2 separate regions of the Homo sapiens genome follow, and region 1 is linked to region 2. A link means that fine-mapping ties the variant in region 2 to the plasma level of a protein whose gene starts in the linked region. Region 2 holds a variant in brackets. A gene starts in the other region. All regions are shown on their reverse strands.

Region 1 (5,333 bases), not on the chromosome of region 2:
AATAAAAATTTTAATGAATGAAATAACACTTTTTTTCTGTGTCTTTATTCATTTGTTTGCTTTTTAGTGACATGAATACTGCCCTTTGTGGATTTATTTTCCTGCCTAATAATACTTCCCCATTTCCTTCTTTTTTTTTTTTAAAAAAAACTGGATTTTGAAGGAAATAAGAACAACATTCTGCATATCATGCCATGTGTGTGAGCATCCTGGGGAAACCCCACAGTCGGATGCAGTGTAGAGCCAAATGTTAAATGCGAGGAGGTCTGAGGGCAATGGTGAAATGAAATAGAAGAGTAGGGACTTATAATCTATTAATAGTTGGGAGAATCAAACCAAAAGCTAATACCATGGAGAGAGAAAATGGTTGTAAAAATCCCAGAGAAGACAGGACCTTTGTGTGTGGGTGGGAGTTGTTTCCATGGAGCTCAGCTCCGGGAGACACGGAGCCCCTGCTAGGGAATATGTGGCTGGCTGTGGTGTGATGAATTCGGGGGGTGAGGGCCTGCCTGCCTTTAGCTCAAGTTCTTAACAGTCGCTATGGTTTGTGCGGCATGTGTGATCCTGTCCCCACAGCCTGCTGGTGTGGGCACAGTTCTGCATGTCTCTCCTTCCGCTGTATCACTGCCAAGGGACAGGGAGTCCTAGGGGCTTGAGTGAGACTGTCCGTGGTCCAAGTTGGGGTGTGGTTGCTCCCTGCTGTGCCCGGCCCACTGAGTCTCCCTCAGAGGAAAAAGGCTTATCTCACCCAGGCACAGACCTGCTTTTGAATAGCCAAGCCCCTTAAGCCAGGTAACTGTTTTACAGCAGACTTCTGACCTGGTAATGGATACAGAATCTTAAGACTTGGAAGCACTGGAGCTGTCAACTTCCTTGCTCCAAATACTTCTCATTACCTCATCAACTTGCTCAGTGGATGGACTAAGAGTGTTCCCCCACTCTGCAACTGCCATACCTACTTTTCCCTTCCTGGACAATCAAAGTGTCTTCCTAAGGGACAAAATGTAGAGGCCATTCTGACTGGAGGTTTTCCTGGGGAAATAGGCTAAAGAAGGGCCACAGGAATTTGAGCCATCGGCATCTTACTCTGTTTCACAGCTCGCCTTCCCAGTCTGTCATGTTGGCTCCCTGGCAATTTCATGGGCAAGGGGGCGGGGAGGCTTTCACTCGATGTGCCTATGCATGACGGACTTACCAGGTCACCAGTGTAGCAGTTCAGGGCTCTGGAGTTGCATTCCTTGATCGGAACTGAAAGACCTCCCGCGATACCTGGCAGAGGCAGTGGCTCTTCCCTGTGGTCCAGGGCTGCGTGACTTTGAAGGTAATTTCAGTCAACCCAGCCTTTACTGGGCTCTGACTGCATTAGGCTGCATCAAAGGGGATTGGATCCCATGATTCTTTATATCTTCTGACATTAAGCCTTTGTCAGCTATAGGTGTTACAAATATCTTTAGTTTGTGGTTTATCTTTTCCCCTTTTTTATGGTGTCTTGAAGGATAGAAGTCTTTTTTTTTTTTTTTTTTTTTTTTATTGATCATTCTTGGGTGTTTCTCGCAGAGGGGGATTTGGCAGGGTCATAGGACAACAGTGGAGGGAAGGTCAGCAGATAAACAAGTGAACAAAGGTCTCTGGTTTTCCTAGGCAGAGGACCCTGCGGCCTTCCGCAGTGTTTGTGTCCCTGGGTACTTGAGATTAGGGAGTGGTGATGACTCTTAACGAGCATGCTGCCTTCAAGCATCTGTTTAACAAAGCACATCTTGCACCGCCCTTAATCCATTTAACCCTGAGTGGACACAGCACATGTTTCAGAGAGCACAGGGTTGGGGATAAGGTCACAGATCAACAGGATCCCAAGGCAGAAGAATTTTTCTTAGTACAGAACAAAATGAAAAGTCTCCCATGTCTACTTCTATCCACACAGACCCGGCAACCATCCGATTTCTCAATTTTTTCCCCACCCTTCCCGCCTTTCTATTCCACAAAACTGCCATTGTCATCATGGCCCATCCCCAATGAGCCGCTAGGCACACCTCCCAGACGGGGTCGTGGCCGGGCAGAGGGGCTCCTCACTTCCCAGTAGGGGCGGCCGGGCAGAAGCGCCCCCCACCTCCCGGATGGGGCGGCTGGCCGGGCAGAGGGGTCCTCACTTCCCAGTAGGGGCGGCCGGGCAGAGGCGCCCCTCACCTCCCGGATGGGGCGGCCGGCCGGGCGGGGGGCTGACCCCCCCACCTCCCTCCCGGACAGGGCGGCTGGCCGGAAGTCTTAATGCAGACAGCATTATCAGTGTGTTCAAAAGACACGTAGACACGTTTTGCCTATAGACAAATGGGCAAAAGGAAACCCAGCTTTCTCAAATGAAGCACAAGTGGGCCTTAATTATGTGAAAAGGTGTTCAAGTTCATCATTAAACAGGGAAAGGAAAAGTTAAAATCATGCTGAGATATCTTTCATAGAAATGGCAAAAAGCAGGAAGTGCCACGTGTGGGCAGAGAGGAAGCACAGGAACTCTCACAAATGGCAGGTGTCATCGTAGACCAACACAACCACTTTGGAGAGCAGTTTGACTTTCCCCAGTTAAACTGAACATGTGAGCGGCCGGGCGTGGTGGCTCATGCCTGTAATCCCAGCAGTTTGGGAGGCCGAGGCGGGCGGATTGCCTGAGCTCAGGAGTTCAAGACCAGCCAGGGCAACACGGTAAAACCCCGTCTCTACTAAAATACAAAAAATTAGCTGGGCGTGATGGTGTGTGCCTGTAATCCCAGCTACTTGTGAGGCCGAGGCAGGAGAATTGCTTGAACCAGGGAGCAGGAGGTTGCAGTGAGCCGAGATCGCACCACTGCACCCCAGCCTGGGCGACAGAGTCCCCCTCCCCCACCAAAAAAACAACAAGTGAGCATCCTGCAACCTAGCAATGCCATTGTTGAACAAGTTCAAAGATGTTCTTAGCCTTATTAGTCCCAAAAGGAAGAAAAAAATGGAGGATTTGAGAATGTTCTTAGCTTTATTGCTAAGCGGAGAAAGAAAAACAACACATACCAAAAAAAAAAAAAAAAAAAAAAAAAAAAAAAAAAAAAACCTGGGTGGGAAATTAGGGCCATGTGGCATGAAAAGGAAGACCCAGGGGAAGTGTGGCCCATCTAGGGGTGTGGCTACTGCAGTGATCCAGCTGTATCACTGAACTTCCCTGGCATCATAGAGTTATATTGTGCCATTTATGGAAAAACTCTCCCCACTGCTCTTGGCTTTGACAGTAGGAATCAGGTTATATATGGTCTCTCGGTTTGAAGATATTTGTCATTAAAAACCAGAACAAGGGCTCTGAGATAGGGTCCTTTCCTGACCTACTCTGGTAAAGTCTTTATCCTCAGGATGCAAGGATACCACCCTCTTCCTGTGGAAAGTGTCGAATCACATGCAGAGCTCTAAGTCTTTCAGTTACTTTGGAGTGCAGAACCATTTCAGGTAAGGCCAAATATTTTAAACATTAGTATAGGAAATTAGAGGGCTCTTTAGTCTGTGTGTGCATGAGAAGTAAAATTGCACGAGAAGCAATTTATGTAAAATTTCGCTTAGGAAACATTGTTTTGGCAGGTTAGTAGTATGGTGTGCATTTCCCAGAAAATTCAGTGCCGTGAGTATTACCTTTAGTTAAGCATCTTAGAAATAGTAGCTCTTTATGGCTAAGTCAGAAATACTACCCTCAAATTCTATGTGACCCTAGTTATACTGTTGAGCCTTTCTGTGCCTCTGTGCCTTCATCCTTGAATCGGGGATAATATACTTACCTCCTAAGGTTATTGTAAGGATTAAATGCATGTAGTATAAATAAAGAGCTGAGAACAATGCATGGCGTAAAGTGATAGGTATTATTATATGCTTTTGTTGGCTGTTGATTGAAGGTGTTCGCTGTTTTGGGGGTGTCCTTTAATAGAGTAACTTGGTACTGTGGAAATAGCATGATTGTGAGCAAAAGAATCAGATGGTGGTGGCTGCAGACTTTGCTGTTCCCTTCTTGACTGTTGGTTATAGCCAATGCAGGGTAAGTTATAAAGTCAAGAGCAGAGCCGTTTTCACAATGGACATTGCTTTGTGATGTCTGTGAGCTTGAATGTGAGAATGATTATTTTAATTCTCTATGTAAGGACTTTAAAGTATTGGCTATTCGGTAGCTTGAAAACTCTGTAATCTCAATGCTTTAAACTGAGAGTGGAAAATCAATAAAGCAAAAGCATGAGGCCACGCAGTGTAGAATGAGTGTCTTTTCACCACGTAGGGAAATCTGTAGTCCTAAGAAAAGAGGGAGTGAGAATTCTGGCGAAAGGATTGTGCCTCTGCACAAAGTGCAGGATCCCAGGGTTCAGTACAGGCGCGAACGCTCCTGTGTGTTGACCACACTCCCACGGTTGCTTTTTCAGACATGCTGAGGGGGACTCTACTGTGCGCGGTGCTCGGGCTTCTGCGCGCCCAGCCCTTCCCCTGTCCGCCAGCTTGCAAGTGTGTCTTCCGGGACGCCGCGCAGTGCTCGGGGGGCGACGTGGCGCGCATCTCCGCGCTAGGCCTGCCCACCAACCTCACGCACATCCTGCTCTTCGGAATGGGCCGCGGCGTCCTGCAGAGCCAGAGCTTCAGCGGCATGACCGTCCTGCAGCGCCTCATGATCTCCGACAGCCACATTTCCGCCGTTGCCCCCGGCACCTTCAGTGACCTGATAAAACTGAAAACCCTGAGGCTGTCGCGCAACAAAATCACGCATCTTCCAGGTGCGCTGCTGGATAAGATGGTGCTCCTGGAGCAGTTGTTTTTGGACCACAATGCGCTAAGGGGCATTGACCAAAACATGTTTCAGAAACTGGTTAACCTGCAGGAGCTCGCTCTGAACCAGAATCAGCTCGATTTCCTTCCTGCCAGTCTCTTCACGAATCTGGAGAACCTGAAGTTGTTGGATTTATCGGGAAACAACCTGACCCACCTGCCCAAGGGGTTGCTTGGAGCACAGGCTAAGCTCGAGAGACTTCTGCTCCACTCGAACCGCCTTGTGTCTCTGGATTCGGGGCTGTTGAACAGCCTGGGCGCCCTGACGGAGCTGCAGTTCCACCGAAATCACATCCGTTCCATCGCACCCGGGGCCTTCGACCGGCTCCCAAACCTCAGTTCTTTGACGCTTTCGAGAAACCACCTTGCGTTTCTCCCCTCTGCGCTCTTTCTTCATTCGCACAATCTGACTCTGTTGACTCTGTTCGAGAACCCGCTGGCAGAGCTCCCGGGGGTGCTCTTCGGGGAGATGGGGGGCCTGCAGGAGCTGTGGCTGAACCGCACCCAGCTGCGCACCCTGC
Region 2 (5,373 bases):
CTTTCTCTTTATTTTCTTAACAGTGTATTTTTATTCCAAACAATATCCGATTTATAGAAAATTTGAAACCATAGAACAAAAGACTTTTTTCTCCTCATCTCTTTGAGAATAAGTTACCAACATGGTGTCCGTGGCCCCTAAATACTTTAGCATTTTCTTATAAACAAGGACACTCTTCCTACCGAAATCAGGAAGTTAACACTGATGCATTGTTACAGTATAATTCTCAAACTCATTCAGGTTTCACAAACTGTCCCAGTAGTGTCTTTATAGCAAATGAGTGCAATTCAGAATCATGCGTTACATTTATTTGTCATAGCTCTTTTAGTCTCCTTCAAATGAGAAAGATTCCTCAGTTTTTTTCTTGACTCTTGTGACTCTTGACTCTTTTGCAGTTACAGACTAATTGTTTTATATAATATCTCTCAGCTTGGGTCTGTCTCATGTTTTCTAATGATTAAATGCAGGTTATGTATCTTTGACAGAAATACAAAAGAGGTCATGTGTTCTTCTCATTGGATCCACACTTCAATATGTCCTATTACTAATGATGTTAACTTTGATCATTTCATTAAGGTGGCATCTACTGTGCTTCTTGGCTGTGAAGTTACTCGCTTTTCCTTTGTAACAAAAAGATGTTTTGTAAGGAAGAACTTTGATAATATGTAAATTTTCCATTCCTCTTCAAAATTAATCCTTATATCACTTTATATCAATAGGGACTCATGAATTATAAATTATTCAATGGGCATATTACTATCAATGGGTTATATTACTATCATTATTAAGTTTGATGTTCAGATTGTCTCAGATTTGGCCAGCAGGAAATTTCAGGCTGGTTTCAGTGTCCTTCTTTGAGTACTTTCTTACTTTCTGACACCAGAAGCTATCCCAGACTCATCTTTTACTTTTCATTTATTAACTCCTAGAATCAACCATTTCTCTTAAGGGGTCTTGGTTCCTGTTAAGTGAAGAATGATATTTAGAAAGCAGGATTGGGGCCAGGGATGGTGGCTCATGCCTGTAATCCCAGCACTTTGGGAAGCCGAGGCGGGTGGAACACCTGAGGTCAGGAGTTTGAGACCAGCCTGGCCAACATGGTGAAACTCCGTCTCTACTAAAAAATACAAAAATTAGCCAGGAGTGGTGGTGGGCACTTGTAATCCCAGCTACTCGGGAGGCTAAGGCAGGAGAATCGCTTGAACCCGGGAGGTGGAGTTTGCAGTGAGCCAAGATCACACCATTGCACTCCAGCCTGGGTGACAGAGTGAGACTCTGTCTCAAAAACAAAAAAAAACCACACACACAAAAAACAGAAACCATGGCTGGGCACAGTGGCTCATGCCTGTAATCCCAGCACTTTGGAAGGCCGAGGAGGGCGGATCACGAGGTGAAGAGATCGAGACCATCTGGCCAACATGGTAAAACCCCGTCTCTACTAAAATTACAAAAATTAGCTGGGCATGGTGGTGCGCTTCTGTAGTCCCAGCTACTCAGGAGGCTAAGGCAGGAGAATCGCTTGAACCCAGGAGGCGGAGCTTGCAGTGTGCCGACATTGTGCCACTGTACTCCAGCCTGGCGACAAAGTGAGACTCCGTCTCAAAAAAAAAAAAAAAAAAAAAAAAAAACAGAAAGAGAAACCAGACTTGGGACCAGGCACAGTGGCTTATGTCTGTAATCCCACCACTTTGGGAGGCTGAGATGGGAGGACTGCTTGAGGCCAGGAGTTCAAGACCAACTTGGCCAACATAACAAGTCTCCATCTCTGTTTTTTGAGACAGGTTCTTGCTCTGTCACCCAGGCTGGAGTGCAATGGCATGATCTCCACTCACTGCAACTTCCACCTCCTGGGATCAAGTTATTCTCCTGCTTCAGCCTCCCGATTAGCTGGGATTACAAGCACGTGCCAGCACTCCCAGCTAATTTTTTGTATTTTTAGTAGAGACGGGGTTTCACCATGTTGGCCAGGCTGGTCTCGAACTCCTGACCTCGTGATCTGCCCACCTTGGCCTCCCAAAGTGCTGGGATTACAGGCATGAGCCACCATGCCCAGCCTGACTCCATCTCTATTTTTTAAAAATAAAATAAATAGAAACCAGTATTGGGCATCATTGATCTCAGGCCCTCTCAGGGCACAGAAGTAGGGAATATAAGGATGTGTGTACACACATACACAAAATCATACATGCATTTACCCTTATATTTCTCTACATACGTAATAAAATATGGATCTTATTAGTTTGTTTATTGAAAACCATGACTTCATACCAATACTTCTCATTCCAACCTAACACAGTTTTCATTCTAGTTTTCTGTCCATAATTTATTTTTTTGAGATGGGGTCTTGCTCAGTTGCCCAGGCTGTAGTACAGCCTCAATCTCCTGGGCTCAAGTGATTCTCACACCTCAGCCTCTTTCCTTGAGATGGCATACAGGTGCATGCCACCACACCTGGCTAATGTTTTCTTAATTTCTGTGGAGACGGGATCTCGCTATGTTGACCAGGCTGGTCTCAAACTCCTGGCCTCAAACAATCCTTCTGCCTCAGCCTCTTAATGTGGTGGGATTACAGGAATGATTTGTTAACTGTCTTCTCCAACAGCGAGAAACTTTGCTCCCATTATCCTTAATATTGTACATTTACATACATGTCCTTGGAGATACCTTTCTCTCCCCACTGGGACTCCAACACCCTGTGGCAGACTGCCTCTCTGCCGGGACACCCCTCACCACAATTGGGTTCTGACACTCTGGCCTGGACTTGCCCCTGAATGTATGCTTTCTGATCCTGGTCAGGTTCCGGCCACCACAGCTCACCTCCACCCCACTCATAGCTGCCTATCTTGCTCGACCCTGCACCTGATGACTTTTGCACCTGATTTTTCAAGGAAGGAAAAGAGGAACTATATAGCTTTTCTCTTATTACTTTTAAGCACTTCCATTTCATTTATACTTGGTCATTCAGAAATTAAGAGTTATTTCTACCATGCACTATTCTTAAACTCTGTGATGCCTTTAAAGAGTGCCTCTTCAGTGAGACTGGGTCTATGCTGAGAGTAGAGGTCCTGCCTCCTCCCCCTTTTTCCTGTCCACCACATTCCTCTGTCTGCCCAGAGTAGGGAAGGCTGCAAACC[C/T]TCCCCCCGCCTTCCTCCTAGGAGGTCGCTGCCTGAAAGCTCTGTCCTGCCCGGAGGAAACCAGCTCAGCCTCCAGCTCTGGCCTGGCCTGATAGTCTGCCAGTAGCCAGGCCAGCTCTATCAGTTCTGTGCACGGGGATGCCCTGCGCGGAGGGGAGGGAGGAGGGGGAGAAAGAGTTGCCCGTGGGGCCTCAGGCCTTTGCTGTGCCTCAGTTCCCACACCTCAGAAGAATAAAGTACTCAACCCAGAAGAAAGACTCGGGCTTCCAGACTTTGGTTTGTGAGAGCAACGACATTCAAGGGTTACTCACGTAGACATTTAACAACCCGTAAAGGGAACTGGATGACAGAAATTACAGGATGGCTCCACCCTCGCGAAATGACATATTCATTTGAATGCTTGGGTAATTTCACAACAGGCAGTGCTGGTGGGGAGCAGGTTTTCCTCACTGAAGATGGAAATAAGGGTAATTGCTAATTTCCTTCCCCTGACCTTCATGACCTGCCCAGCTGTCTGCTGCCACCAGCCTCCTTCCACGGCTTTTCTTGTCTAAGGCTTCATGCCTTAAGAAATCAATTTACTCAGCTTTGTTCTGGGCCAGGTGAGAAAAAAAAATCAATGTATTCATACAAGTGGGACAATTGCAAACAAACGGAGTAAGAAAAAATAAATTCAGTTATGTAGTATTTGAGGCTTGAATTCGAGTAAATCAACCAAACTTCCTCCTCGCTTCAGGTAAAAGCATTTGTTGTTGACACAGCGCCACCTGATGGCAACTGGAATCTTGGCAGGAAATAGTCACCTGTCATTCCAACGTTATGCTGCTCATTTCACCTTTTTGTGTGTGTGTGTGTGTGATGGAGTCTCGCTCTGTCGCCAAGGCTGGAGTGCAGTGGCATGATCTCGGCTCCCTGCAACCACCGCCTCCCGGGTTCAAGCGAGTCTCCTGCCTCAGGTTCCTGAGTATCTGGGACTACAGGCGTGTGCCACCACGCCCAGCTAATTTTTTGTATTTATAGTAGAGACGGGGTTTCACCGTGTTAGCCAGGGTGGTCTCGGTCTCCTGACCTCGTGGTCTGCCCGCTTCAGCCTCCCAAAGTGCTGAAATTACAAGCGTGAGCCACCGTGCCCAGCCATCATTTCACACTTTTTTATTTTTAAATTTCAGTTCCCTTTCAAGCTCTAGACTCTTTCATTCAGAGTCCATTCTCTGTGTGCTTATGGTAGATGCTAAAGGTCTAAGAAAATATGACCACTTCCTGTCTAGTGTGGTGGCTCTCAAACTTGACCTTGCTCAGTTGCTCAGGCTGGAGTGCAGTGGTGCAATCTCGGTTCACTGCAGCCTTGACCTCGTGGGCTCAGGTAATCCTCCTGCCTCAGCCTCCCAGGTAGTTGGGACCACAGGCGGGAGCCACTATGCCTGGCTAATTTTTGTTTTGTTTTTGTTTCGTAGAGACAGGGTTTCGTCATGTTACACATACTGGTGTTGAACCCCCGGACTCAAGCAATCTGCCCGTATAGGCCTCCCAAAGTGCTGGGATTGCAGGCATGAGCCATCGCCCCTGGCTGAGAAAGTTTTAAAATGCAGACTCCTAGGCTCTGCCCTGCAAAGACTCGGAGTTGGTGGGTCTGGGGTATGTCCCAGGAGCTTGTGTTTAAACTCCTCAGGTGATTCTGAAACAAAGAGTTCACAAATAACATGTTGAGAGGAACTAAAGATGGAGAAGCAGACTGGAATTTGCAGTCTGGAATTGTTACTGCAATGTAATCTGGCAAATGCCACAAAGTATGAACAGGTCTGCTAGGGACACAGAGAAGGGATGCCTAATCAGACTAAGGAAAAGAATAGAGAAGGCTTCCCAGAAGGTAAGACTCTAGATGAATAAAAGTTGGTGAGATGAAGAAGGGGAGCAGGGGAATCATACATAGGGCATAAAATATGGAAGTTAAGAGGGCATGAAACTCCATGGGCCCTGAGAGCAGTGTGGGAGGCTGGAAGGAAGGAGAATGTGGCAGTGTCAGAAAATGAAGGGCCTGGGGCCAGGGACAGTGGCTCACATCTGTAATCCCAGCACTTTGGGAGGCCAAGGCAGGAGGATTACCTTGAGGTCAGGAGTTTCAAGACCAGCCTGGCCAACACGGCAAAACTCTGTCTCTACTAAAAATACAAAAATTAGCCAGGTGTGGTGGTGGGCGCCTGTAATCCCAGCTACTCGGGAGGCTGAGGCAGGAGAATCA

Which allele goes with the higher level. Positions count from the first base shown, and alleles are read on the strand shown. Strength reflects both the effect of a copy and how common the allele is.
As copies of T replace C in region 2, the plasma level of the protein whose gene starts at base 3,434 in region 1 goes up (weak association).

Evidence for each region. PIP is the posterior inclusion probability: the model's chance that the variant is causal. The UK Biobank Pharma Proteomics Project read protein levels with antibody pairs (Olink). The fine-mapping took linkage between variants from a reference panel, not from the people measured, so its PIPs are less certain.
Region 1: it holds the start of GP5, and the variant in region 2 is fine-mapped to the plasma level of the GP5 protein (UK Biobank, PIP above 0.99).

What each region holds. Positions count from the first base shown.
Region 1 is chr3:194,397,367-194,402,699 of GRCh38, reverse strand. GP5 (glycoprotein V platelet) reads left to right here and starts at 3,434. Exons shown (of 2, transcript NM_004488.2): 1 at 3,434-3,462; 2 at 4,416-5,333. The coding sequence starts at 4,418. It overlaps ATP13A3 (ATPase 13A3), which reads left to right. Exons shown (of 34, transcript NM_001367549.1): 34 at 1-23. RefSeq lists enhancers at 1,498-2,050, 2,051-2,604.
Region 2 is chr9:4,761,253-4,766,625 of GRCh38, reverse strand. No RefSeq gene overlaps it. Among named protein-coding and RNA genes, the nearest start is that of AK3, 23 kb to the right of the region's middle. RefSeq lists an enhancer at 2,759-3,697. The variant C/T (reference allele first, on the strand shown) is at 3,135.